Regions from separate parts of the Homo sapiens genome. Here all the other regions are linked to region 3. Evidence: fine-mapped expression QTL. A gene starts in region 3. Each other region holds a variant in brackets. All regions are shown on one strand. Distances are from middle to middle. Region 1 overlaps MAPRE3 (microtubule associated protein RP/EB family member 3). Region 2 holds the start of CGREF1 (cell growth regulator with EF-hand domain 1). Region 3 holds the start of MAPRE3 (microtubule associated protein RP/EB family member 3).

What was found.
Region 1: its variant is fine-mapped to the expression of MAPRE3 in whole blood (TOPMed, PIP above 0.99).
Region 2: its variant is fine-mapped to the expression of MAPRE3 in whole blood (INTERVAL, PIP 0.94).

The regions. Positions count from the first base shown.
Region 1 is chr2:27,022,828-27,032,509 of GRCh38, reverse strand. It overlaps MAPRE3 (microtubule associated protein RP/EB family member 3), which reads right to left. Exons shown (of 7, transcript NM_012326.4): 3 at 9,033-9,178; 4 at 8,213-8,414; 5 at 6,773-6,927; 6 at 6,478-6,630; 7 at 5,291-6,230. The coding sequence ends at 6,162. Among named protein-coding and RNA genes, the nearest start is that of TMEM214, 5.3 kb to the left of the region's middle. RefSeq lists an enhancer at 7,527-8,317. The variant T/C (reference allele first, on the strand shown) is at 6,678.
Region 2 is chr2:27,115,220-27,125,195 of GRCh38, reverse strand. CGREF1 (cell growth regulator with EF-hand domain 1) reads left to right here and starts at 6,068. Exons shown (of 6, transcript NM_006569.6): 1 at 6,068-6,350. ABHD1 (abhydrolase domain containing 1) reads right to left here and starts at 1,381. Exons shown (of 9, transcript NM_032604.4): 1 at 1,134-1,381. The coding sequence starts at 1,247. It overlaps LOC124907744 (a long non-coding RNA gene), which reads right to left. Exons shown (of 2, transcript XR_007086252.1): 2 at 7,711-9,976. RefSeq lists silencers at 1,297-1,436, 1,457-1,536 and enhancers at 6,135-6,635, 6,636-7,136. The variant C/T (reference allele first, on the strand shown) is at 5,500.
Region 3 is chr2:26,966,592-26,976,567 of GRCh38, reverse strand. It overlaps MAPRE3 (microtubule associated protein RP/EB family member 3), which reads right to left and starts at 5,931. Exons shown (of 7, transcript NM_012326.4): 1 at 5,766-5,931. RefSeq lists a silencer at 5,717-6,046.

The DNA.
Region 1 (9,682 bases), 56 kb before region 3:
TTTTAGTAGAGACGGGGTTTCGCCATGTTGGCTAGGCTGGTCTCGAACTCCTGACCTAAAGTGACCCACCCCACCCCCACCCCTCAGCCTCCCAAAGTGCTGGGATTACAGGCGTGAGCCACGGCGCCCGGCCACTGTTTTTCTTTCCTTTCTCGTAGAGCTGGAAGGATGGAAGGGAAGTAGTGCTCCTCATATCTAGGGAGAGATTGAAGATTAAATGCTTCCTTCCTTCTAGGAAAGTGCTGGCTTTACTGTTGCTAGTGATTAAACCTCGGGTTTAATGGGCTATACAAATCTATTGCCAAAGAACAAGGAAGAGGATGGGGGCTTGAGGAAAGGGCAGAGTGTTGGGGAGCTGGGGTAGGAGGTGGAGAATGGAGAATAATTTTTTTTTTTTTTTTTGAGACAGGATCTTGCTTTGTCGCCCAGGCTGGAGTTCAGTGGCGCGATCACGACTCACTGCAGCCTCAACTTCTAGGGCTCAGGTGATCCCCCACCACGGATCACCTGACCCACCACCACCCCCGGCTAATCTTTGGTATTTTTTGTAGAGACTGGGTTTTGCTGTGTTGCCCAGGCTGATCTCAAACTCCTGGGCTCAGTGATCCACCCTCTTCAGCCTCCCAAAGTGCTGGGATTACAGGAGTGAGCCACCGCTCCTGGCCTCTGAGTTCTTCTCATGGGAGGCTGAGAAAAGTCTGGGGGTCTGGGACAGCCAGGGCCGGGTTTCCCCTTCCAGGCAATGAGAAAGAACAGGCTCTGCCTCCCACCATAAGAGTCAATCCCAAGTTCCAGATGTGTCAGGGAAGCGATGGAGAGCCCCAGACTTGAGGCATCTGCAGACAGGTTCCTGCTCAGACATCCACGTGGAGGGTGTTAGTATCCTGGGAGCCTTCAGAACCTTGAAGCATGCCAGCAGAGGAGAATGAGGGAAGATAAAATCAAAGTGACTTATCACAATTAAGGAAATGTGCTATTTCATGTACAACTGTGTGTGAGGATGAGATTCCTACCTGCCATACTGAGGTATTATGATAAGAACTAAGAGAGTCCAAATTCCTACAGGATGAACAGCTGAGGGAGCGATGCATTCCTTAGGAAGGAGTTTAGCTTCCCGAAGGAGACGGCAGCTGAGATAGGTTCTGAGAAATAGCATTTTCATTGGTTCCCCGGGCGCCGTGGCTCACGCCTGTAATCCCAGCACTTCGGGAGGCCGAGGTGGGTATCACCTGAGGTCAGGAGTTCGAAACCAGTCAGGCCAACATGGTGAAACCCCATCTCTACTAAATACAAAAAAGTAGCCAGGTATGATGGCGCAGGCCTATAATCTCAGCTACTTGGGAGGCTGAGGCAGGAGAATCGCTTGAACCTTGGAGGCGGAGGTTGCAGTGAGCCGAGATTGTGCCACTGCACTCCAACCTGGGCAACAAGAGCTAAACTCCGTCTCAAAAAACCCAAAACAACAACAACAACAAAAAACAAAATTGAATGTTCACTGGCTGAGGGTTAGGGTGGGTGGAGAGAAAATGCCAGTTGTGTGGATCTGTTGATGTAAAACAAAGGCCTAGAGGGTGGTAAACTGGAAGCAGTTCAATGGGACAGTGCTTGATGGGACTTTGGAGGTGATGAGGTTTGATATAGTTTGGATTTTTGTCCCTGCCCAAGTCTCATGTTGAATTGTAATCCCCAGCGCTGGCAGTTGGGCCTGGTGGGAAGTGTTTGGATCATGGTGGTGGATCCCTCATGGTGGATCCCAGTTCTCATGAGATCTGGTCATTTAAAAGTGTGTGGCACCTCCCCACCACCTCTCTCTCTCGCTCGCTTGCTCGCTCCTGCTTTTACCATGTGATGTGCCTGCTCCCCCTTTGCCTTCCGCCATGATTGTAAGCTTCCTGAGGCTTCCCTAGAAGCAGATGTCAGCATTATGCTTCCTATACAGTCTGCAGAACTGTGAGCCAATTAAACTTCTTTTCTTATAAATTACCCAGTCTAGATGTTTCTTTATAGCAATGCAACAATAGCCTCTTATGAGTTTGGAAAGGGATCTGAGCCCATATGCCAAGGAACTTGCCTGCCAAATCTGGACTTTATCCTTCAGGCCCTGGGAGACCAGTGAGAGGGTGGCATAATCCACTCTTTTGGAAGGGTAAATGTGGCTGTGTGAAGTGTTGGTAGGGGAAGGCAGGGGGTGGGAGATGAGCATATCTTGCTGCCTCCTTCTACCTGTCCTCCAGCCCCCTTAGGCCTGACCATGGCTGACTTTGCATCCGGTAGCTCTGAGATACAGTGCCTTTGCCAAGGACCATATTTGAACTGATCATTAATCAATTCATTTTGCAGATCATTGGTTTAGGTGTACTCAGGAGACCAACAACAATATCTTCTCTTTGTTTGACCCCTCCTGTGTCACATGTATGATCACAGAAGAGACCATGTTTTTGGAAGAGAAACAGAACTGGCTTTCCATTGAGGCAAATGAGGGGGCTGCCCCATGGTGGAGACACACAGAAGGGTGGGAGAGGGACTCTATCTTTCATTGGAATAGTCTAGTAAGTTACCAGTTCTAACTTGGCATCTAGGACATATAAATCATGCATTTACTTATCCAGCAACCTTTTCTAAGCACCTTCTCTGTGTCAGGCCCTGTGCTAGGTGGAGCTGGAAGATATAGCTCACTTGCTTGTAAGGAACTTGAAGTCTGTGTGGGGGACAAATGTATAAACAGAAAATTACAGTTCACCATCTTAGTGTTCCAGAGGAAAGAAGCACTTAGTATGAGGTACCAGGAAGAGGTGGGGAGAAGGGAGTGGCTTTACATCCTTAAGTTCTGGGTGTTTGAAGAGCAGCCTTAGACACTAGCCACGGAGGTGGGCTTGGGTAGGCCCCGCCGTGGGGTTTGAAGACCCAAAAGATGTTGGGTCAAGGAGGACATGGGTGTCTAGTGTGGGAGCAAGCAGAAGGGTGAGCTCACCGAAGCACTGTTTTACCCACTGTACTACGTTTCTATTGCTGCTAAAACAAATTGCCACAAACTTAGTGGCTTAAAACAAGGGCGTTATCTTCCAGTTCTGGAGGGCAGGAGTCTAACTCAGGTCTCCCTGGGCTAGAATCGAGGTGTCAGCAGGGCTGGGTTCCTTTCTGGAGGCTTTGGGGGAGCATCCATTTCCTTGCCTTGCCCAGCTTCTAGAGGCCACCTGCATTCCTGAGTTCATGGCTCCCTTCTGTCTTCAAAGCCAACAACAGTGGGTGAGTCACTCTCACATTGTTTCACTTTGACCTCTTCTTTTATTTTTCTGAGACAGGATCTTGCTCTGTTGCCCAGGCTGAAGTGCAGTGACATGATTATGGCTCACTGCACCCTTGACCTCCAGGGCTCAAATGATCCTTCCATCTCAGCCTCCCAAGTAGCTGGGACTACAGGCATGTAGTACCATGCTCGGCTAATTTTTCTATTTTTTGTAAAGATGGGGTCTCGCTGTTGTCCAGGCTAGTCTCCAACTCCTGCGCTCAAGTGATCCTCCTGCCTTGGCCTCCCAAAATGGTGGGATTACAGACATGAGCCACCACACCCTGCCCACTCTGACCCTTTCTGCCTCCTGCTTCCACTCTTATAAACGTTTGCGATGACATTGGACCCACCTGGATAAACCAGGACACTCTCCCTATTTTAAGGTCAGCAGATTAACTTCCTGAATTCCATCTGCAACTTTTTTTTCTTTTTTTTTTTTTTTTGAGACAGGGTTTCAGTCTGTTGCCCAGGCTGGGGTACAGTGGAGCAATCATGGCTCACTGCAGCCTTAACAACAACTGGGCTCAAGTGATCCTTCTGCTTCAGCCTCCTGAGTAGCTGGGACTACAGGCACGTGCCACAACGCCCTTCAAATTTTATTTTTTGTAGAGATGGTGTTTCCCTATGTTGCTCAGGGAAGTCTTGAACTCCTGGGCTCAAGTGATCCTCCCGCTTTGGCCTCCAAAAGTGCTGGGATTACAGGCGTGAGCCACCGCACCTGGCCCACAGGCAGCTTAATTCCCTTTTGCCATGTAACCCACATATTCACAGCTTCTGGGGATTGTGATGTGGACATTGGGGGAGGCACTGTTCTGCCTCCCACACCCACTTTACCTTCAGGGTGAGGTCTCGGCCTGGCCTATCCTTTCATGGTATCTACCTGTAATCATGGGGAAAAGCCTTTAAAAATTAGGCAAGGGAATTAAAATCATCACGATAAGTAAAAGCAGGCAAGGAACTTGCTGGAGGAGAACAGAGATAGAATAAGGCAGAAGTGTCTATGTATGGGGGGGGGGAGTCAAAAGGGGTGGTGGAGGTGATTGAGGAATAAACAGATATGAATTGCTTATTTAAGGCTTGAACCTGGTGTCATGAGAGAAATGGTGGTGGTCTCAAAAGGGGCCATGGGGTGGGGCCACAGAAGAGACACGGCCCCATCTGCATGTTGACCATACTCAGGGTGGTGAGGAAACCAGCGCTGTCCTGCAGCTGGGGGAACCTCAGTGGTCTTTGGGGATGAGCCCTGAACCTCAAGTCAAGAAGTGTGAGTTCTAGTCCAGGTTTCAGCCACGGTGATTGAGTCATGCACGTGGGCCTCTGACCCCTCATCAGTAAACCGGGGGCTGGTCTAGATGACCCCAAGGCTCTCACATTCATTTCTGCACTCTTGGTCTCTGCTGGGCTTCTGGGACATCGGTTAGTATGGCCTTTTGTTAGGCACATGCCAGGACTGGGGCTGTGCAGGTGATGTGGAAGGGTTCCTGATTCCCTGTTCCCACTGGAGCCTGCTCTACAGAAGGAACCCCTTGGATGTTGCTGTCCCGGGCTTCAGCACTCAGAACTCCTTGCTCTTTGTGGCCATCCCAGCTCTCTCTGTCACGTGAGCCCTTGTCCCCAGCTGAATCACTATGATGAGTTGTATGAGCTTTGACAACAGGTGGGGGATGACATGCAGTCCCCCTGACCCAAAGGAGACTGAAACGAAGCACCTCTTGGCCAGGCCACCACGGTGCCCCACAGCCGCTTCACCGGCTGTCCCTTGTCATGGCCACGGGCCCAGACCTAGTTCCTCCTCAGTGACGGGGGGTTGGGGCCCCTACCTGCCCTCAGAGCCCTACCACCAGTGTTGGGCATTGGGGCTAGGCTGGAGCTGGGCTCTGAGCCCAGAGCTGGTGGTGGTTTCCAGGCCTGTGGGAGGGTGACAGTGAGGCTGTGCTGCCGCTATCACCTCCGGAGAGAGCGGTGCATGGGAGGTGGAAAGCACTGGACCTGGACTGTGGCTCAGTTGAGGGACACATGGCATGTACTTTTACCACACAAGTTTATTTAAATAAAAGTGAACACATATGCAGGCTGGTGCCCGAGGGGCAGGGGGTGGGGAGGGCAGGTGGGAAGCAGACAGACAATGGGGTCCAGGCAGAGTTTGTGTGGTGAACCAGGCTGCTGGAGGGAGTGGCTGGGGGCCTCAGGGCAGCGCTGGGATTCAGTGCTGGGGCAGGGGGCCTTGGGTGGGTGAGCCTGGTGCCAGGAGGTCATTTCCATCCCTCACATGCCCCCCTCCCTTTCCCTGACCCCCTGGGCCTACAGCACTACCTCCTCAGCCCCCTCTCCCTCTCCTGACATCAGCCTTCCCCTTAGCTACTGAGAAGCCAAAAGACAAAATAAATTAGAATGGGTGAGTCCTACCCCAGCCCCCAGCCATGGGGAAGGGAAGCCAAGCCAGGCACACTGCGCCGGAGCCCGTGCTGTCAGCTCTGGAAAAGAACAGGTAAAGTGCAAGGAGAATCCAGTAAGTAAAAATATACCAATGACTTTGTCAAATACACAGCTGCTGGCTGTCAGGAGCAGGTGGCTGGCTGGGGCGGGTGGCAGCAGCACCCTGGGAAGTGTTGGGCGACACAGCAGAGAGACAACGGAAATAAATAGGGTGGGTGTGGACAGGGGTCCCACCAACTGGGCCAGCACCACCCAGGACGGGCTTCTGCCTGCTTTCCGGCCCCATGCCCCCAAGCCCCCCTCGCCTGGCTCCCCAGTGCTGCAGCACTGACACAAAGCACCCGGCCGACCGTGTTAGGAAAGGACTATAATGTGGGAGTGGAGCAGGGAGGGAGGCACGGGGAAGCTGTGCAGTCAGCCAGGGCTGCGGCCGCCCTCAGTACTCGTCCTGGTCTTCTTGTTGATGCTCTTCAATCTCATCGTCCTCAGGGGGTGCGAATCCTTCCTGGAGGGTGGGAGAGAGAGGAAAGTGGTGGGCCAGGCAGGCCAGGCAGGGCTTCTCAGGTTCTGTAAGTAGCTGAAGAGCAAGGGGTCAGGAGTCCAGGAGCCCTGCTAATGGGTGACCCTGGGCTAGTGACTTCACCTCTCTCTCATCAGTAAATGTTCTCCACGGTCCCTTCTGGCCCTATCGCGCTTCTGGTCTTAGGGCCAGGCCAGACTGGGGAGGGCCCAATGGGCCTGGGAGTGCTCACCTCTGTGGCATAGAGGATGCCAATGATGCCTGAGATAACAGGGCTGTTTTCACTTTCATGCTCCTGGCAGATGAGCTCGATGTCACGAAGTTTGCTGAAGTAGAAGTCACGTTCCTTCTCCAGCCCATCCACTGTCAGCTTCAAGTCCACCAGCTGCTTGGGGACAAAGTGATGTTCAAGCCAGAGGTCCCCACCTCAGG[T/C]TCCCCTGCCTGCCCTCCTCTCGTCCCTGCAGACACCCCAAGGGCCTGGCTTTGGTGACAGGGCTATCTCAGCTACCCTTACCCATCCCACTCACCTGTTGGTTGAGTTCAAGAATTTGGGCATCAGTCTCATGGCCGCCATTTCGGGCTGATGGAGGATTCTTCCGGAGAATGCAGGGGGGGGCCACATTGCTCAGCCGGCCAGAGGTCTGCATGTTTTTTGGGCCTGTGGGGGACGTCCTCTGTGGAACTGCCCAGAGGAAAAGAGTCAGGTAAGTCCACGTGAGCCCACAGCGCACGTGGCAGGAGACAGCCTGGTGTGAGGACTGCGGGGGCAGGCCCATGCGACAGGCAGGCACTCTCACCCCCCTGCCCCCACCCCAGGAAGGGCATCTACAGCTAGGCCCCGAGTCTTGGCCACATGGACACTCCAGCAGCTGGGCAGCCCTTTGGCGAGCCCGGGAGAGCAGAAACTATAGGGAACTAAACAAGGTGTGAGGTGTTGGGGCAGGGAGAGAGCTGGCCTGAGGGATAGAGGAGAGAAATTAGGACGCAAATTTGGGGAAGTAGAGTTGGAAGGGTGCGGGACCCTCTCGTACTCATAGCTAGAGGAAAGGCAGCTGGCACAGGGTCTTTCCTAACAGAAGCCCCAGCCCAAAGCCATTGTCCCTGGGTGGCTGCCCCTCCAGGGGCCCTGTGTCAGGATGGGCTCTTTTGCCCTCTGCTGGGCTGGACCAGGTATCTGCACAGTGGTGGCCAAATCAGGGACCCCAGCTCCTCCCCAGCGCAGCCAGCATGCCGTGGCGACTTGCTCACTAGCGACTGCACCTCCCTAGACAGAGCGGGCTGCTTCTAGTGCAAAGCAAGCAGGCGGGCGAGTGGGGCAGGCCCAGGCAGAACAGCAGTGCAGACAGAGGAGGTGGCTCTGCTATGACGGGGTCCGACGCGGGCTGGGGCTGCTCCTCTCCCTTCCCCTCCCAACGCTGCTGCTTCCCAAAGGCCCTATTGCTTTTCTCCCTTCCCCTCCAGGACCCAGACAAAGCCTCGTTTCTAGAGACTCATCTTTTGAGGACTTAGGACTATTGGGCCTTTAGAGTGGGGAAAGGTGTGATCCAGCTTGGCAACTCCTGCCCCTGGCCATCCAGGGGGCAGGGGGCAAGAAGGGGCTGTGGTGCTGGCACCAGGCTCTTGGTCTGGATGCACCTGGATGGAGAAACCAAGCCACCTTGCTGCCCCATCATCTTGAGGCAAACAAGTTAGCTCGTGCTATGAAACAAAGTGCCTTGGGCCTCCTACCCCAGTTGCCACCATGGCTGGTGCTGGTGGCTCTCCTCTTAGACCAATTTGTGGAGCTCTCTCACCCACTACTTTCACTCCCCCGGTCTAACTGGCCAGCAGGCGGCGTCATCCGAACTCCGTGATAACAAGTCTCCTCCAGGCTGGCAGGGCCGGGCCGTGGCCCAGGGGGCACTCCTGGCTATAGAGGCCTGCCGGCCCGGCCCCCCACGCTCCCTCCCCCGGCTCGGGCACGTTACCTGCTGTGCCAATGAGTTTCTTGGATTTGTTGAAGATCTGATCACCTGGGTTAGGAGGTGGCGCTACGTCCTGGCCCTGCCGCGCCAGCAGAGGGTTGTAATCCTTTCCATCATAGTTTGCGTCAAAGAATTTCTTAAACCACTGAATAAACTCAAAATTATCTTGGAATTTTCCTTTCACTAATTTCTCTACAGGAATGATCTGAAATAGACCACATAAGCAGAGTACTTTAGCCACCTGCTGCTGTAGGACCGCCTTCCTCTGCTGAGGGCCACTGCTCTCAGGAAAGCCAGCCCCTGGGCTGCAGCGTCCTCCACCTTCTCCACTTGCCCCCCTCCCACGGCACCAGAGCAGACAGGTAGGCTGGTAGGCCCTAGTGTCAGATCCAGAGGCATCCCTTCTCTACAGGCACCGTGTGGAAGAACTGTGTGGGGAGGCGTCCCTTGGCTCTACTGCCTGCGTGTGGGCTGGGGGTCTGCAGCCACCGAGGCAGTAGAGTGAGCAGAGACACTTTCTTGGGCCCTACAGAGACAGAGAGAGGTGGAACTTCACAGGAGCGGTGCACAGAGCTCAGTGTTGGGGTGGGCAGGGTCCAGAGAGGAGGAAGGGAAAGGAATGTTGTCATGATGGCATGGCAAGTGTTGTGGGCTTTTCCATTGTGCCTTGAGCAGGGGGAAAATTCCCTCTGGAGAGTCGGGAGGTGGAGGGAGGCACGAGCACCGGAATGACCCCAGCAGCCCCAGTTGCCTGGGCTGGTGGGTCCTCTTCTTCCCCAGGGTCACACTGCTCCTCAGGGCCCCCCAGAGCGCAGGCACCTACTTTGTCAACACCCATCTTCTTGAAAGCTGCTTGCAGCACCTTGAAGTTGTGGATGTATTCGTGCTCTAGTTTGGCCTGGAACTTCACTTTCCTCAAGTGCACACAGCCGGGGAAGAGCATGTCCATGAACTGGCAGTAGGCTGCCCCTGTGGAGAAGGATGGCTGGCTGAGGGGTCTTGCTGCTCTCCTTCTGTGAGCTGCTCTCTCTCACTTCCCCAAACCCCGTCTCCTCTTCTCTCTCCTTGTTCTGGGCCAGGGACCAGTCCTACTTTCAGGATAGACATGGCCAGAATCCCCCCAGCTTTCCAAGAATAAAAGCAATGACTATTTATTGATGCGTATTATGAACCAGCACCACACCAAACACTGCATGTAGGTAGGGCAATCCCAACAGGAACTCTAGTTAGTTGGTGATACTATCTCCATCTTATGGATGAGAAAACTGAGGCCTAGGGCAGTATAGTGACTTGCCCAAGGTTGCACCACCAGAAGAGCTGAGAGCTGGACCCAGAGAGGTGTGGTCAGACCTGTGGCTCTGCTGCCATCCTGGCTCTCAGCTCCCCGCTCCTCCTTTCCCTGCAGTCCTTCATGGTGCCTCTCCTGCTCTTCTCTTTCCCTGCTTCCATTTCTTGACTTCAGCTCCAGACAGT
Region 2 (9,976 bases), 150 kb before region 3:
ATTGTGAGGCTTGGAGTTTTTAACTGTTTTATTAAGGAAGACTTTTTTTTTTTTTTTTGAGACGGAGTTTCACTCTTGTTGCTCAGGCTGGAGTGCAATGGCACGAGGCTCATTGCAACCTCCGCCTCCCAGGTTCAAGTGATTCTCCTGCCTCAGGCTCCCGAGTAGCTGGGATTATAGGCATGTGCCACCATGCCTGGCTAATTTTTGTATTTTTAGTAGAGATGGGGTTTCTTCATGTTGGTCAGGCTGCTCTCGAACTCCCGACCTCAGGCGATCCTCCCGCCTCTGCCTCCCAAAGTGTTGGGATTACAGGCGTGAGCCACCACACCCGGCCCTAAGGAAGACATTTAGTAAACAATATATGCTAATGTAGAAAGCTCTGAAAATATGGAAAAGTCTAGGTAACACTAAAGTCTCCTATAGACCTTTTTAAAGGACTCGAACCAGTAGGTGTCTTGTTAGACTCAGCTACCTAGAACAGAGTTTAATGAAGATGAAGAGATTTGGCTTTTCCTGGATATGTAAATTATGTATATATCTAAATTTCAGTGAGAAAAGTCTCCAAATTCATCAAAATCAACCTCTTCAAACTTTCTCATCACACTCACTATATGGAGAGCCTGGAACATAAAACGGCTGAATGAGCAAGGACAGTTGGGGTCATCCATCAGTTCTGAGCTAGGCCAGTTCTGACCTCAGCCAGCCCTTAAGGGAAGGGAGGTCCTACTAAGCTATTTGGGGGGTGGGTGGTATTGGGAGTTAGCCATGACCCACAGACCTCTGGTTCCTTCCTTCAGTGCAGCTGAAAGACTCAGCTAAACCACCTAAAAAGGAACGCAAAGTGTGCACATCTCTGATACCTCAGGATGCCTTCCACCCCACCTTTCCCCAAATGCTTGTCCACATTATAGGGAGCAGCACCCTCCGGTACCCAAAAGGCCCAGCTGGCATGGGGATCACATGGGATGCAGAGGCACTAGAGAGGCAGAGCCGACTCTCCATTCGGTGGTAGCAAATTTCACCTGTGGGGAAGCCCAACCATCCCAGTTCCCACCAAGGGCCCAAGCCCGTGTCTGGAAGCTGCCCCCTACACCCAAACCCGCTGGCCAGAGCGGTGGACCCGCACCCACCTGAAGCACACATGCCCAGTAGTAGCCCAAGTAGAGGGCAACGGCAAGAGCCAAGAGCAGAGAGAAGGTGTCTGCCCAGGTGCCATTCTGGGGGCTCAGGAAGGAGCTCAGCATCTTGTGTTGGGGGCTTCCGACCCTCAGGCTCCTGGCTGGCCCCAGTTGGCCGGCTGTAACTCGCGGTCCCACCCGCCGCCCGCCATAGGCGGCCTGTGCAGGTCCGGTCCCCGCTGCAGGCAGTTTGCGCTGCTGGCCCCGCCCACCGCCGGTGCCCCGGGATGGGCGGCGAGAGGCGGCGCTAGTTGGTCGCGGGGCTGGGTGGCTGGTCGCCTAGTGCCTCGCGCGGATCTAACCCGAGTGACCTGCGAATGGCCTCCCGCCCTCCCCTGCCTTCTTCCCCTCCGCGGTTCTTGGCTGTGCAGCCCGAGACAAGCGGCCTCCCCCAGCTGCCATCTTGGTGCGGGGCATCTCCAGCTCCCTTAAACTCTTCCCCGGCGACGCCCCGAGTCCAGCAGCCTGGCCAGAGTCCCTTAGGCGCTCGCAGTCAGTCACGCACAGGACACAGCTACTCCTGCAGTGACATTCTGCTCTGTCACACACTACAGCCATTCACAGTGACCCTCACCAGTCACTGTCCGACTGTGACACCCCACACTGTCACAAAGCTTTCAGCTGCTCAGTGGTGGCATTGCAACACATGCACCTTCCTGCAGTGTCACTCTGCATTGTCTCATACAGTCCCTGCCACACAGTCCTCGTACAGTAGATAATTTGCTCACCACCCGCCCTGTACCAGGCACTTGATACAGACCCCCCATGTTACTGTCCGTGTCTTCATTGAAATATAGGAGGTCGTCTACTAAGAGTAGTGGCTTTCAACCTTGACTGCAGATCGGAATCATCTAGGATTTTTAAAACTACCAGTGCCCAGGCCCTACCCCCGATACAGTTAGTCTGGAGAGGAGCCTAGGTATCAATACACCGTAAAGCTTCTAGGAGGTCCACAAGTCATCAGGGCTTAACATGGTCCACACAAGAGAAGTACCAGCTGCCATGGGAGCACTGCGGAGGTGCCCGGACTTCACGCGAGGGTGTTCTAGCAGAGGGGGCAGCAAAGGCAAAAGCCTGGAGGTGAAGGATGTCTTAAGGGAACAAAGAAAGTTGGTGTGGCTGGAGCATGTGGGTGGTCAAGGACCACATAATTGCTGCAGTTTATCCTAGGGTCAGAGGAAAGCCATCCAGGGGTTTTAAGAAGGGAAGGGTGACATGAGTTATGTTTTAGGAGAATCATTCAGTTGCTTGGAGAATAGATTGGAGGAGGAGGAAAGTAGAAGCAGAGAGGCCACTGGGAGGCTGCTAACAGAACGCCAGGCTCAAAAGATGCCCGGACTGGAGGATACCCAGGAGAGGAGTGAAGATCTTCAAGATCAGTGGCAGAATTGATAGGACCTGGTAGTAGATTGGAGGCAGGGGAAGAAGGAGGAACATGGATGACCTCCAGGTTTCTGACTGCACAGATATAAAGTGTCCATCCCTGGGACAGGGAAACAGAGGAGAGGAAGGTTTGAAGAGGAAGATGATGCATTTAGACACAGACATGTAGAAGTTGGGGTGCTGGTAGGTGTTTTAACTGTGTTTCCTTAGGTTCTGTATTTGTCTATTTGGCATCCATAAATCACAGGGCCAACCTAATGGCCAAGGTTGTTTACATCTCCCCTACAATCCAGAGCTCACACTCTGAGCACTTCCTTTCTCTAACTTTCACATTCCAAGCCAGTATCTCCCCTGCCCTAAATCAACCCAGGACCAGGTAACCAGGACCTGTCCCTGTGCCCCAGAGCACTCTGGAATTATTCAAACTAGCCAGTCCCAAACTGCTTCTCCTGCCTTACTGGGAGAAGTAAACCCCAATAAAGGCCTGTACCTTCCCTTCGCTTCTTTCTGCCTCCTGAGTGACACTGGCACTTCCCCCTGTGACCGTGCCTTTTGTTTCTAGGGGAACTGCAAATAACATTAAGCTTTTCTTTCAATAGCAGTGACCTCTTCATGTCCTCACTCAGCCACCTTTATAAATTAAAACTCAGGCACAAATTAGTAGGATATTCAATGCCTGAAGTGGCCTGGGGCTTAGAGATTGGAGGTGGAGAATTGGCAATCATCAGCATTTAGGTGGTGTATTAGTTGGCAGTTTGCTGTAAGAAAGCACTACAAACTGGGTGTCTTAAACCAGGGGTCCCCAACCCCCTGGGCTGCAAATTGGTACTGGTCCATGACCTGGTAGGAACCAGGTGGCATAGCAGAAGGTGAGCAGGATGAGCAAGCATTACTGCCTGAGATCAGCAGTGGAATTAGATTCTCATAGGAGCGCAAACCCTATGTGAACTGCACACAAGAAGGATCTAGGTTGCGTGCTCCTTATTAGAATCTAATGCCTGTTGATCTGAGGTGGAAGTTTCATCCCAAAACCATCACCCTCACCCCCAACCCTTCTGATCTGTGGAAAGATTGTCTTCTCTGAGGCTGGGCACGTGGCTCACGCCTGTAACGCCCAATGCTTTGAGAGTTCAAGGCAGGCGGATCACCTGAGGTCAGGAGTTCGAGACCAGGCTGGCCAACATGGTGAAACCTCGTCCCTACTAAAAAAATACAAAAAAAGAAAAAAAAAAGAAAAAAAAAAAAAGATTGTCTTCTCTGAAACTGGTCCCTGGTGCCAAAAAGGTTGGGGACTGTCTTAAACAACAGAGATTTATTGTCTCACACTTCTGGAGACTAGAAGTCAAGACTGAAATATCAGTAGGGTGGGTTCATTCTGGGAACCGTGAGGAATAATCTATTCCATGCCTCTCCCCTGGCTTCTGGCATTTTGCTGGAAATCTTTGGCACTCCCTGACTGGTAGAAGCATCACCCTGATCTCTGTCTTCATCTTCACAAACATCTTAGTGAGTTTGTGCTGCTATAACAAAATCCCACAGACTGAGTAATTTACAAACAACAGAAATTTATTCCTCACAGTTCTGGAGACTGGGAAGTCCAAGATCCAGGCACTGGCAGGTTCGGTGTCTGTGAAGGTCCATTCCTCAGAGATGGTGCGTCTGGGTTTCCTCATGTGATGGAAGGGACAGAAAGGCAAGAGAGCAAGAGGGGTGAACTCTCTCAGAAACCTCTTTCATAAGGTCATTAATCCCTTCATGAGGGGAGAGCCCTCATGGTTTCATCATGTCCCAAAAGGCCCTACTCCTTTTTGGTTTTTTTCAGAGGCAGGATGTCGCTCTGTCACCAAGGTTGGAGTGCAGTGGCAGGATCACAGCTCACTGTAACCTCAAATTCCTGGACTCAAGGGATCTGCCTGCCTCAGCCTCCCAAATAGCTGGGACTACAGGCGTGCACCACCATGCCTAATTTTTATTTATTTATTTATTGTAGAGACACGGTCTCACTATGTTGCCCAGACTGGTCGAAAACTCCTGGCCTCAAGAGATCCTCACACTTCGGCCTCCCAAAGTGCTGGGATTACAGGTGTGAGCCACTGTGCCTGGCTTCCTCCTCTTAATATCACCACAATGGGGACTAAGTTTCAGCACATGAATTTGGTGGGATATTCAGGCCATAGCAATGTTCTTCCTATGTGTGTGTCTGTGTCCACATTTCCTCTTTTGATATGAACACCAGTCATATTGATTAGGGGCCCACCCTACTCCAGTATGACCTCATCTTAATGGATTACATCTGCAATGACCCTATTTCCAAATAAGGTCACAGTCTGAGGTATTGGAGGTTAAGACTTCAACATATAACTTTGTGAAGGACACGAGTCAATGCATAACAGTGATGGGAGCTAGGTGAGCAGATGAGCACATGAGCAGATGGAAAGTGAGGAGAGGGCCCTGAGGAACTCTGACGGTGAAGAAAATGGAGACCTTTTTGAAATGACCAGAGGTAGGAGAGGTATTGCCGAAACCAGCAGAATCCGTGATCTAAAAAGGCAGTGACAAGCAGTGTTCATCACTGGGAGGAGGACAGGATGAGAGTGGGCTTGTCGCTGTGATGACAGTGTCGCTGTGATGGAGTGTCACAAACAACTCAGGAAGAGTTCACCCTGACACCCCAATACATATGCCTCTAACACTCTGCACCGCCACACCCCTGGGCAGTCAGTCACACATTGGCCATACCCTGAAGCCCACACTATCATTTATTTTTTATTTATTTATTTATTTATTGAGACGGAGTCTCAGTCTTGCTTTGTCACCCAGGCTGGAGTGCAGTGGCGTGATCTCGGCTCACTGCAAGCTCCACCACCCAGGTTCATGCCATCCTCCTGCCTCAGCCTCCCGAGTAGCTGACACTACAGGCGCCCGTCACCATGCC[C/T]GGCTAATGTTTTTGTATTTTCAGTAGAGACGGGGTTTCACTGTGTTAACCAGGATGGTCTCCATCTCCTGACCTCGTGATCCACCCGCCTTGGCCTCCCAAAGTGGTGGGATTACAGGTGTGAGCCACCACGCCCGGCCCCTGAAGCCCACACTATCACACGGATGCACAGTCACACAAAATACCCCCTACCGTGTCACAAATTCCTCATACACAGAGCCACACATGCCAGTCACAACCGCACATGCTAACAGTAAGTTAGGTTCCATTTTGTCACATACATCTGGGTCCCTCAGGCAGAGAAAGTGGCAACCAAAGCATGAGCACAGTTAAACATACTTCTGATGCACACTGGCCTCACTGTCTCTTGGTCTCTCTGTACTCACATGTGTGCATACAGGCACACGCACACATCCGCGCACACATGCACGCTCACACACGTGCATCCTTACACATGCTCACACTCACGCTCACAATGTCACACGCATGTGCACACCCGCACAAGCACACGAGCGCACTCACGAGCACACGCGGACTCGCACACGCGCACATGCGCACTCACGCACGCACACACGCGCACACTCACACGGGCGCGCGCAGCCCCTCCGGCCGCGGGCGCAGCGGGGGCGCTGGTGGAGCTGCGAAGGGCCAGGTCCGGCGGGCGGGGCGGCGGCTGGCACTGGCTCCGGACTCTGCCCGGCCAGGGCGGCGGCTCCAGCCGGGAGGGCGACGTGGAGCGGCCACGTGGAGCGGCCCGGGGGAGGCTGGCGGCGGGAGGCGAGGCGCGGGCGGCGCAGCAGCCAGGAGCGCCCACGGAGCTGGACCCCCAGAGCCGCGCGGCGCCGCAGCAGGTGGGTGACACCCCGCCCCGGCCGGCCGGAGACCCGAGCCCATCGCCGTCAGCCAGCCAGGGCCGCGCGGGGTAGGTGGCCTCCAGCCTCTGGTCCAGATCCCGAGAGCGCAGTCCCTCTGCATCCCCTGCGGCTCAGACGCGGCGGGAGCAGTGGCCCTTGCCCCTGTGTACCCTGAGGGCAGGTGGAGGAAGGGACTGGAGAGCGAGCCTGAGGCTCCTTGGTGTGAATTTGGGGCTTCGCAGTTCCCCAGGCGCTTCCCCCAGCCCCGCATTCCGTGTTCCAGCAGTCCTGGGGGAGGGGCAGCTGGCGGGAGCTTTCCCCCTCATCCGACGGGGAAGAAATGGAGCGCTGGGGAGGGCCCGAGGCTGTCGTCCGCTTGCAGGTGGCCGAGGGACCAGCTCCCGGGTGTGGGCTCCTCTAGCCCTGTAGCCGCTGTCTCCTTTCTTGGGGGATGGGTGCTGGGAGGCACAAGGGCACCAGAGGGATAAATTAAGAATTAAGGGAGAGGATTCTACTCAAAATTTTAGCTTCCCAACAGTTCGACTCTACAGGAGATGGAACTGCCGGCCTGTGAGGTGCTAGGTTCCTGTCCTGGAATGATTCAAGCAGAGGCCATTTGACAGGGTTGCTGAGGAAGAAATTTTTGCTTTGGATGGGAAGTTACCCAGGATAACCCTGCAAGGCCCCTGCCACAGCCCAGAGGCTCTGAAATACCCAAGCAGCACCTGCTTGGTGCCAGGCACCTACCCTAAGTTTTCTCATTGCAGCCTCCCCAAACCTTTAGGAGACAGATACCGTTATCCTCATTTTTAAAATGCAGATCCCGACCAGGAGCAGTGGCTCACGCCTGTAATCCCAGCACTTTGGGAGGCCGAGACGGGCGGAACACGAAGTCAGGAAATCGATACCATCCTGGTTAACACGGTGAAACCCCGTCTCTGCTAAAAATACAAAAAAAATTTAGCCAGGCGTGGTGGCAGGCGCCTGTAGTCCCAGATACTCGGGAGGCTGAGGCAGGAGAATGGAGAATGGCGTGAACCCGGGAGGCGGAGCTTGCTGTGAGCCGAGATCGTGCCATTGCACTCCAGCCTGGGCGACAGAGCGAGACTCCGCCTCAAAAAAAAAAAAAAAAAAAAATTCAGATCCCAGGGCTCAGAGAGGTTAAGACACCTGCCTAGGTCCCACAGTGAGTAGTATCAGAGGCAGGATTTGATCAGAAGTCTAACCTGTAGAGCGTGCTCTCCTCCCATGCACTGGTGCAAAGGCTTGAAGAACACTGGGGCCGGAGGGTCATTGTGAATGTGTGAGTGCACGTGTGTGACATAACTTTATTAAATTACATGGCAACTGTTAACAGTTATGGTGGCTTTCATGTGTTTATTAGGGTAATTATGTTCATGCACATTATAGTTATAGAAAATGGTTAGGGACATTTTTATTGGACAGGCAGTGGTTCAATAACTATTTTATTTCTCTCACAAAAGCTTTTGTTAATGTTTAGAAATGTCTAAGTGTCAACACATCGCACTAACCTCATTACACATTACATGAGGTGTCTTAGCCTTTCCTTAAACCACTGAGGTGGGTTACTTGCACTAAAATGTCACAGTTGGAAGCATTACTTAGAATATTGGCCAGGTGCAGTGGCTCATGCCTGTAATCCCAGCACTTTGGGAGGCCAAGGTGGGTAGATCACTTGATCAGGGGTTCGAGAACAGCCTGTCCAACGTGGTGAAACCCCGTCTCTACTAAAAATACAAAAATTAGCCAGGTGTAGTGGTGCACACCTGTAATCCCAGCTACTTGGGAGGCTGAGGCAGGAGAATCGCTTGAGCCTGGGAAGTGGAGACTATGGTGAGTAGATTTTGCGCCACTGCACTCCAGCCTGGGTGACAGAGCGAGACTCTGTCTCAAAAAAAGAGAGAGAGAGAGAGAGAGAGAGAGAGAGAGAGAGAGAGAGAGAGAGAGAGAATAGGCCTGGCCTGGTGGCTCATCCCTGTAATCCCAGCACTTTGGGAGGCCAAGGTGGGCAGATCACCTGAGGTCAGGAGTTCAAGACCAGCCTGGCCAAGATGCCGAAACCCCATCTCTACTAAAAATACAAAATTAGCAGGTCATGGTGGCACATGCCTGTAATCCCAGCTACTCGGGAGGCTGAGGCAGGAGAATCGCTTGAACTCGGGAGGTGGAGGTTGTGGTGAGCTGAGATCGCGCCATTGCACTCCAGCCTGGGCAGCAGAGTGAGACTCTATCTCAAAAAAAAAAAAATTATACTGAAAGTCCACATCATTTACTTTTTTTTTTCTCTCTCTTTTTTTGAGACAGTCTTGCTCTGTGACCCCAGCTGGAGTGCAATGGCACAATCTTGGCTCATTGCAACCTCTGCCTCCTGGGTTCAAGCAATTCTCGTGTCTCAGCCTCCGAAGTAGCTGGGATTACAGGCACGTGCCACTGTGCCTGGCTAATTTTTATATTTTTAGTAGAGATGGGGTTTCACCATGTTGGCCAGGCTGGTCTCAAACTCCTGACCTCAGGTGATCCTTCCACCTTGGCCTCCTAAAGTGCTGGGATTACAGGTGTAAGCCACCATGCCCGGCCTTTGTTTTTTTTTTTTTTTTTGGTGGCATCTTGCTGTCATCCAGGCTGGAGTGCAGTGGTGTAATTATAGCTCACTGCAGCCTTCAACTCCTGGGCTGAAGTGATCCTCCTGCATCAGCCTCTCAAGTAGCTGGGACCATAGATTTGAGCCACCATGCTGTCTAATTAAAAACAATTTTTGTTTGTTTTTTTTAGAGATGGGGGGGGTCTCATTTTGCTGCCCAGGCTGGTCTCGAACTCCTGGCTTCAAGCAATCCTTTTGCCTTGGCCTGCGAAGTACTGGGATTACAGGCGTGAGCCATTGTACTCAGCCCAATCACTTGCATTTTTGAGGTGGGCTATAACCGAATGCTAAGGTTGTCAGGAGGGCCCAGGACATTCCAGATTGAGGATGGAACAGGTTGGGCAAAAGCACTGAAAAGTGAAAGTGGAAAGTATTTTAGGAGACTCCAATAACTCCTTGGTTTGAAGCAGTGTGCTATCATAATACAGCACTGGAAGATGAGTCAACAGTAACTTGATATCTGATTGTAGAAGGCCTTGAATGCCCAGGTGAAGATTCTGGACTGTAATCGAAATAGGGAGCCACTGAAGGTTCTAGAGCAGTGGAATTCTAGCAAAGGATGATTTATCTGATGTGGGTGTGGAGGGTTCTTTAAGTGGAGAAAATACCAGAGACAGGGATAACACTAAAAGGCTTGTATATTAGTTTGTGCCAGAAGTAATTCATTATTCATTTAATGTTCACTGTAACCCTGTGAGGTAAATATTATCTCCAGTATGTGGATAAGGTAACTGAAGTTTAGTGAGAAAAATTAATTTACCCAAGGTCACAGGGACACTCAGTGGTGGAGCTTGGGTTTAAAAGTAGGTCTGGCTGTTTCCAAAGCTCTGTTTTCTGTCCATTAAACATACTGAAGAGTTAAATATATGAGGGGTACATAGGACCAAGAAGAGGAGAGTGATAGTCATTCACGGGGTAGGACTCAGGACCAGGTGCATAATTTGCAGGGCTCGGTGCAAAA
Region 3 (9,976 bases):
ATGGTGCTAGTGAGTGCAAGATCTAGGCTTATGCTAGTATTGGCCAGTCAACTCTGTGCACAAGAAAAACCATCCGTGGCCACAGCATGCTTCACGAAACTTGGCTAACTGTCACACGAAATTGTACTCTTGGCCAAAGGGAAGACTGGGTGATGGAATGTGAATTACTCAGCATAACCCATCCTAACTCCTGGGTAAGCAACCCAAAGCACATGTCCAAATGATAGGTGTGTCATCTTTCTATAATAAACATGACATCTGGCTAGAAAATACAGCTGGCCAACTTACGACAAAATTAAAAGCTGAACAATCCTTAAGGATTTTATCAGAGTTTACCAGTAATTCCTACCAGAAGCAGTTAATCAGTCATTATGTGAAAGATGTGCTGTACCAGCCAGGTCTGACCTAGAACTTAGCTACACAGTGTGCCAGCATTTCAGCTTGGGTCCCTTTAAACTTCAAGCCCTCTTGACATTAACTAAGAGGCAGGAATTTTTCATGAAGGTCATATAGTCAGATGCCATTTTCATCAATAGCTGAAAATTAGCTTATTAGAATAATTATGATTATTTTAGCTGGTCAACAGATGGAGGGGACTATTCTCAAGAGGGGAGTGAAAAGACTAGGAAGAGTTGATGGGGTAGGTGGTCAGTTAAGTACCCTGGGCTGACCGGGAAGCAGCCACTTTGGAGGGTCCTGCCCTCACTTAAGAGCTTGATTTGGTGCAAACTGCCTGGGCCTGCTTGAAGCTGTCAAACCCTATTTGCCCCAGGCATGGGAGGCTCCAAGTAAAGGCAGCTGCTTCTTTTGTACCAAAATGTATTTACTGAACAACAATCACTACCCATTCTATTTGGTCTTCATTAAATGACTAAAGCATACATGCTTCTTATAACAAGTCAAATACAAAAACATATAAAGTAAAAGTTCCCCTTTGAGTCTCCTTTTCCCTTCCCCACACCCAAATCCCACCTCCCAGAGGTAAACATTATTGCGTTTCTTTTCAATCTTTAGATGTCTATACATGGGTATTTCCTTCCCTACTGAAATTTATCTAGGAATTTAAATTCACTTTTGCTCTTGCACCTGAACAGCTTGCCCTGGTTCTTTAATTACTCAGTAGTTTCTGCCTTGAGCCAGTCTGTAATTCTCTCCATCCAAAATGACCTCCCTTTACCTCTGCTCACTGGCAAGGTTTCCCTCTTAAGATGAATAGCTCCTTTCCCTTGCCCCCTGGATCTCACGGATGCAGAAGCTGATTTTAGCAAAGTCACCGATGAAATCTATGCCTCTACCAGTTGAGGAAGTCAATAAAGACCACATGTGTGTCCCTCACAAGCAAGAGCTCAGCAGCTTTTCTATTTCAAATGAAGACCACTCCCCAGACTGGCCTCCCTGCTGGAGAACTAGCCACCCCCACCACACACCCAAGCACACCACATCTGTGCCTCCTAAAGTCAAATGCTCCTGTCCTGCCAGTCTTTCAGGTTGGCTGAATACATGGAGCAAAGATACATTTCATATACTCCGGTTTTGGCAGTTGAAATAATAATGCAAGTGCCGGGTCTTCCCGGTACAAACCTTTTCTCTGTTCGTGTCAAATACCGAGAGGGGTGCTGAGAGATGGGGGCTACAAAACTGAGAGTCCAAGATGGACCTAAATCACGAAACAATTTTGAAACCATTATTTGCTATTTTATGCTTTAGTCAATATAAAATAATCATTGCTATTTCTTATGAAGCAAGCACTCTACATACTCCCTTTCATTTAATCTTCACAACAACCCTGTAAAACAGATAGTTATTATTCCAGGGTTATAAATGAGGAAACTGGCATTCAGAGGTAACATAACTCACCCAAGGCCACACAGCCAGGAGATGGCTGGATGGGGATCTGAACTCAAGTCTGCCTGCTTCCAGAGGTCAGGCTGCCTCCGCGCTTCCCAAGGAGAGGGTTTAGAAGTCCTTATGGCTCCCAGAAACTACAAAAGGTTCCATTCTGAGAGGTGGAAGATAAGCCCGCAGCTGCCCAATGTGCACGCTCCTCCTCTCAGCCCCATCTGCCTCTCCACCTTGCTTTCTGGAATGCGGCAGTCTCACAGATAAGAAGTAGAAAAGACTTCAAATACCCAACTTCACATTTGCTTTTCTGTTAGTTGATGCAAATTAAAAAAAGAAAGACCTTCCTGAAGTCAGAATGTGTGATAAAAAATATTATTTTTAAAGTGGCAAGAATAAATATTTAGTTAGACAGTTTGACACAAAATTTTGCCTGGCTGTGCAGCATCTCAGATGACAAAACAAGCCCTTGCCTACAGGGCTAATTACGGACTACTAAATTATTTTTATTAAAACCCTTTGGAACATTATGAGGGATGAGGCAATGTGGTGTTGAAGAATAACTCTAGTCTGGAAATCTGGAGATCTAATCCTGACTCAGCCACTAATAACCACCAACATTCATCTGCCTAGTGTACACAGTTTACAAAGTGTTTTTACATACGTTCTGCATGGGTTGGGTGACCTTAGGTAAGTCATTTAACTCTTGGTGTCTTGTGTCAACTTTAGAAATGAGGGCATTAAACTATACCATCTGGGGTCACCTCCAGTGCTAACATCCTAAGCGAGGGAGACATGTGCCTTGGGACCTTTACAAATGTATCTGTAAGCAAATCAGGGCAGATGCATTCTGTTTTAAAAAACTATATTTTCTGGCCAGGCGCGGTGGCTCACGCCTGTAGTCCCAGCACTTTGGGAGGCCGAGGCGGGTGGATCATGAGGTCAGGAGATGGAGACCATCCTGGCTAACAAGGTGAAACCCCGTCTCTACTAAAAATACAAAAAATTAGCCGGGCGCGGTGGCGGGCGCCTGTAGTCCCAGCTACTCGGGAGGCTGAGGCAGGAGAATGGCGTGAACCCCGGGAAGCGGAGCTTGCAGTGAGCCGAGATTGCGCCACTGCAGTCCGCAGTCCGGCCTGGGCGACAGAGCGAGACTCCGTCTCAAAAAAAAAAAAAAAAAAACTATATTTTCTGTTCGGCTTCTGACAAATGTTACTCGGCTAAATTCAGGAATAGCTCATAAGACGTTTGCTGCCAGTTAGTTGGCTCAGTTTCTGGAGAGTACCACATTAAGACCCTGGGTTGGATTCTCATATGGGAACTTTCCTCCGTTCAATAGCCTCCTACTATGCCTAACTCCAGCCAGTCATCTTACAAATACAACCCCACAATGTGTGCTGGCGTGCAGGAAGGACTAGAAGAAACTCAGCTTCACAATGCATGCACTCTCAGGACGGTAGGTCAGAAACGGCATCATCACACAGGAATACTATCAATAGCATTCTTTCTCAGTTCCAAGATTCACAAATCCCTCCCTCAAGTCTTGCCATTTCCCGAGGGTTTTAATGTTTCTAAAATGAGGATGCACCTTGGAATCAGCATATATATTTTGATCTGGTAGCATTAGATTATTTTACCTAAAAGCTATTGGTAAATTGCTGGTGTGTCTTAGAATCAAGAATACAGTCCTACAAAACCTCAATACCATTACATAGATTTAGGTCTAACTTGGTTCAAATCATGTCCCTCTCCTTGATCTTAACAATTACATTCAGCAACAGCTGGATAGGCAATGTATAAGACAAGTATTAGTCCTGTTTCCTCATAGTAGCAGTTTAAAAGGCATTCCATCATTATCTCATAAAACACTGGTATGGATTTCAAAGGCAAATTAATCCATATAAAAACTACTCTGATCCTCTGAAAATGTACTATCCCATAGCAAACTGGAAAGGAACATTTTACTTACACCCTCCTGATCTATCTAGCCTTGACACATTTTCTTCCTCCTTAATTCACAACCCTCCACCCCAGTAATATCGCTGATTCCCAAAATACACTCAGCCCAGGAGGAGCAGCTCTCCAGTACAGCTGTCTGCTCCTGCCCTGCTCGGGTATTTTGGTGAGCTATGTGACACAGGACCACACAGAAGGAATGCCACTCTCAGGCCCCACAGTTCCCACTGCACCACAGGCAGGTGCATCCCACCAAACCCCAGTCTGGCATTCGAAACAGAAGAAACTGCCCTGCTGGATGGGGGCTATAGTTTTCCTGAACTTCATCTCTATGTTTAAAACTAGGGCGACAGCCGTCTTGGCTACTGTAAACTAATCTGATGGGCATGGGGGCAGGGAGTGGCTATGAGGAGGCTGCCAATAGGCCATGATTGAGCAAAGTAAAGAGTGAAATAGTTATTTCTCATTGTTTGCAACCCCGGAAACTCCAAATGAGTGGCTCCTTCACCATGATTTTTAGAAATGGACCATGCGTTCCTTTTACCATCTGGAGTAAAAATCCCAAAGCCTCTTGTGCGGTAGATCTGGCTTATATTTACACGTGCTTTCTAAAAGCACACTGAAATTTGGAAGCCAAATAAAAAAGAAGCTGACAATGAGGTCATATAGTAGTTAGGGGCCCTCAAGTTGAGACATGTTTATTAAGAGTTTCTGGCTCTGGGCACTAACTCTGACTTCAACTCAGTTCTTCTGGAAAAAGAAAACTGTTTGGGACCCTCTTCTATTCCAAGAACAGGGACTGCAAGATGGGCAGGTGGAGGGGTAGCAAACATAACCCAGGGAATTGTCCAAATATGCTAGAACCCCTATCTGGTGACAGCCCCACAAAGACACACAGCTGGAGGAGGCACAGTGTACAGGCCTCACACCTACACCATGGAGAAGCTTCGATTTTTCTCCTTCCTCTCAACTCTGCACACGTTATGTTAAAAACTCACTACTATCCAATTAGTTAATTTACAGGAATCCAAGATCAAGTCCTGCCACAGCCCCTTCATATATAAACAGTAAGCACTTCCTATGGATGGTATCAGGCCTTTTTCCAAACCTCACATTATACCAGGGTTGTAGTGCGATTTAAAAAAAAAAAAAAGCATTTTAAAGAGTTCCGCAAGATGCTTATTCACAACACCACACCGGAAGCGCAGGAACTTGGAGCTCCCAAACGCAACCTCTTCTCCCTTCCCTCCACTACTTCTACTCCCCGCTCCGCAACACCGGCCGGGCAGTAGCTCAGCCCACTAGAAGGCCACCAGGCACTAGCCGCGTTCATTAAACGCTAGATGATCACGATGGGGCTGAACCCTTCCCAGCCAAATCTATTCGGAAAGCCCTGCAAGCTCTGAGCAGCCAGTGAGAACTGTCCAGACCTGCTTCCCCAAACCAGCCAGGCAGGAGCGTGTGGGGAAGAAACCCGAGGCCCCCAGGCTGGGCCTGGCCCGATGTTCCCCCTCCCCCAAGTCTCCCCTCGCTCTCCTGTCACTCTTTTTCTGGCACATCACTGGGGAGATCCAGAGAGGCCGGGAGATGTCAGGCCTAGGAGGAGTGAGGAGGAGGGAGAAGGGATAAGGGCGGACGGGAGGTAGTTTGGAGAAAATATCAGCCCAGGGCAGAGGTGCGGTGGCCACGTCTAGTGGGGAAGGAGCCTCAAGGTGGACCCGGAGAGACGGAGGGAAGGGGAGGGGAGGGAAGGGGAGGGGGAGTGGCTGGGGAGGCCGGGCCGCCAAGGCCGGAGGGAACCCGGCGACAGGGATGGAGGGGGTTGACCGGCGCGGGGAAGGCGCGGTCGGGATGCGGGAGTGCGGGTGGGGAGGCAGGGGCGGGGGGAGCCCGGTTCCCCTCCCCCAGCCCGGGCCCTGGCCTCCCGCTGACTCAGCCCCACGGCGTCCGTCGCCTCGGCCCGGACTCACAGTGCACGAGGCGGCTCCGGCGGAGGCGGAGGGGGAGGGGACAGGTGGCGGGGGCGCTGCGGCAGAGGCTGCGGCTCCGGCCGGCGGCTCCGGGGCGGAGGGTCCTCGCTGAGGCCGCCGCGGTCTCCGGCTTCAACGCACAGAGACTGCGGGGGACGAGGGCACTGCGCAGGCGCGATGCGGCCGCCGCTGTCAGTCCGAGCGGGGCGGGGCCAGGGCACCCGCCGTCTCCAAGGCAACTGAGCCGCGGGAGGACAGCCCCTACCTCCACCTTGCCTTAGCGATTGCGGCGGGAGGCGGGGGGCGACAGGAACAGGCCCACTGCGTTGCCGTAGCAACGAGGAGAAGAGACCGCTTCAGACGTGTGCGGCGGTACCGAGGGAACGCGCCTACCTCGTCACCATAGCAACTGGGAACAGCCCCTTCCTTTTTCCCTGGCAACAGGGTAACAATCCCTCCGCCCTGTCTCATCACAGGAGGAACAACCGTGTGCACCTGATTTCAGTAGCTGGATGACGGATTTTCATCTTTTATGGCTACGGAAAAGGAAAAAGAGACGTTTTCTTCTCTTTCAGCGACATGGAAGAGCTAAGGCTGGGTTTTATCTCCTCTCTTGGTGTGTGGGTTCCAATCACAGTCTTTTTCTCTAATTCCCAAATTCATTTTTTTTTCTTTTTTTTTGGGACGGAGTTTCACTCTTGTCGCCCAGGCTAGAGTGCACTGGCGCGATCTTGGCTCACTGCAACCTCTGCCTCCTGGGTTCAAGCAATTCTCCTGCCTCAGCCTCCCGAGTAGCTGGGATTACAGGCGTGCGCCACAATGCCTGGCAAAGTTTTTGTATTATTAGTAGAGACAGGGGTTTCATCATGTCGGCCAGGCTGGTCTCGAACTCCTAACCTCAGGTGATCCACCTGCCTCGGCTTCCCAAAGTGGTGGGATTACAGGCGTGAGACACCGCGCCCGGCCCAATTTTTTTCTACCTGTTTTAAACATCCCCTTTCATCTCCTACCAGAGAGTGTGCCCTTTACCCTTAAATCGAGCTAACGAAATCGTCTATCCACAGACCACTTGAGTTTTTGTCAGCCTTATTGTCTCTCTCCCATTGCAAGGATAAACACCTCATTTCTTCATCTTGCTCACTATCTGGTTTGCAGTCCACTTCCTCATAACTAGCTCCCTCTGACATGTCCATTCGTTTTCCCGAATTTCCTCCTCCAAGCATGCTGTTATGGATCTCCTCGGTTCTTCTGGATCTCCCTTTCCTCTCCACACTTGCTGTCCTTGTCCAGCACTGCTCTGCCCGGGGCTCCAGTATGTTCTTTCCCCCTGTGACTTCAGCATCTTGGTTCTCTTTGTGCTGATGTCTTCTGGCTCTTCCTCCCTCAGCCCTGATTCCCATGGATGCCTTGAGGTCACCTTTGTACCAACCCTGTACATTCCTCCTTTCTTACACACACCTTACACTATCGTCATTTGTTTACGTGTCTGTGTCTCCAGACTATGTGACCCTGGTGGGCAGGAATTCTGTCTTTTTCATCAGCTCCCTCAGCATCCACCACAGCATGTGACACATAGCAGATTCTGAGAAATGCTTATGTAATTGAATCAAATGAAGACAAATCTTTTCCTTCTTCTTTTCTCTGGCCTAACTGCCTCAGAGTCCCAGTCCCCATTTCTAATACCTTTACACATAGTTTGTCTTTTAGTACTATGCTACTATTATAAGTCTTTCATCTCCTTAGCTTTCCATCCTGTTAATTGAGACTCTGGCATTCTCTATTTCCTGAATCCTCGCCTCTAGCTCTTCTCTCTTCTACACTATCCCAAATGTTTCTACTAAGGTAAATTTCCTCACTGGGTACCAACCCCGTGACTCCCATACCCTCCATAATCAGCGTAAGCTCTTCACACCTAACCATCCTGATCATCCCCTAACCAGCTCTAATCAAGCCTTCTTGGTGAACGTTACTGGATTCTGCTGGGCTTGTTGACATGCCAGAGATGCAGCATTCTCTTCAAACAACTCAAAAGCAAGAGCTCACAACCTAGCATTCTCTTCCAAATCTCCCTGTCTAGCTCCCACAGATTCCGCCGCAGGACTATTGGTGCCAAAGCACCCCAACTAAGCCCATTTTCTTGGGGAAAAAAGAAGAAAGTTACAAATAGAGTAAGTAAGAAAAGAGAGGGGACACAGCATATCCTCTCTTCTTCCACCTAAAGCAATTATCAGAAAGGAGAGAGCTCTTTGTAGACAATAATTCCCAAAACAAATCAAGGGGTTAGGAGAGTAAAAACCCAGGCTACACTTTTTTCTAGCCACAGAGTTGGACAACTGGAGCTGTTTCTAACTGCATCTGCAGGGTATCTGGGTGTCACCAAGGCAATAGGGAAGTCGCACGCTCAGTTTATCTTGCTTTCCCATTCTGAAGTTCCAGCTCAGCTTCATTGTTACAGGTATAGACTTGGGTGGTGTAGACTGTCCTGAGTAATCCTGAGAAGAAGCTATGATCCTTGTAACCCCACCCCTTTGTCATACACAAGGTAGAGGACCATTCTACAAAGAGTTCCTATATACCCTTCACCCAGATTCTCTACATATTAACATTTTACTATGTGCCATTAACTATTGCTACAAAATGAATCACTCCAATTCAGTGGTTTAAAGCAACAACCATTTCGTTATCTCTATTTCTGTGGGATGGGAATTCAGAAAGCCCGCAGTTGGATGGTTCTAGCTCAAGGTGTGAGTCAGAAGGTGGCTGAAACTTAAACAGCAGGGTGCTTGCTGGACGACTTTTTATGTTGTCTTAGTGCTTATAGATCATTTGTGTAATTTCTTTGCACGAATGTCTAGTCAAGTCCTTTGTCCATTTTTGAATCGGACCGTTTGTTTATTGTTGTTGAGTTTTAGGATTTCTCTATATATTCTGGATATAAATCCCTTATCAGATAATATATGATTTGCAAATTATTATTATTGTTATTGTTATTATTATTTTGGGCCAGAGTCTTGCTCTGTCACCCAGGCTGGAGTGCAGTGGCACGATCTCAGCTCACTGCAACTTCCACCTCCCAAGTTCAAACGATTCTCACGCCTCAGCCTCCCGAGTAGCTGGAACTACAGGCATGCACCACCACACCTGGCTAATTTTTGTATTTTTAGTAGAGACAGGATTTCGCCATGTTGGCCAGGCTGGTCTCAAACTCCTGACTTCATGTGATCCACCTGCCTCGGCCTCCCAAAGTGCTGGGATTAATGGCTTGAGCCACCCACCACACCCAGCCCCAGGACAGTTTTCTAATACTGTTAATTCCACTTCTTTAGCTTGTTTGTTTGTTTAAGACAGGGTCTTGCTCTGTTGCCCAAGCTGGAGTACAGTGGCGTGATCACGGCTCACCTACAGCCTTGACATGCTGGGCTCAAACAATCCTCCCACCTCAGCTTCCCAAGTAGCTGGGACCACAGGGGTGTGCCACCACACCTGGCTAATTTTCTTTTAGATTCTTTTTTTTTGTAGAGATGAGGTCTCGCTATGCTGCCCAGCCTGGTCTCAAACTCCTGGGCTCAAGCAATCCTCCAGCCTTGGCCTCCCAAAGTGTTGGGATTACAGATGTAAGCCCAGGGCCTGACCCTAATTCCACTTGTTGTTGTTGTCTTTGAGACAGGGTCTTGCTCTGTCACCCAGGCTGGAGTGCAGTGGTGTGATCATAGCTCACTGTAGCCTAGACTTCCTGAGCTCCAGTGATCCTCCCACCTCAGCCTCCTACATAGCTGAGACCATAGGCATGTGGCACATGCCAGCTAATTTTTGTGTTTTTAGTAGAGACAGGGTTTCACCATGTTTCCCAGCTGGTCTAGAACTCCCAAGCTCAAGTGATCCACCCACCTTGGCCTCCCAAAGTGCTAGGATTACAGGCGTGAGCCACCGTGCCTGGCCTCCACTTCTTAAATGCCTCTCAAAACTCTTCCCTTCTTTATCTGCTTCACCTTTACCATCTCTTGCCTGGGTTACTGCAGAGCTTCCCGCCTGCTCTCTCTGCCTTCAGCCTCTCTCATCTCCAATCCATTCTTTACACCATTGTCAGAAGGCTCTTTCTAGAAATAAATCTTATCACATAACTATCCTGCTTAAATCCCTATGGCTGTCCTCAGACCTGCTGAAGCAACTTCCGGGATGGGGGATTCATGTAAGGAAACAGGGCGGAAGAA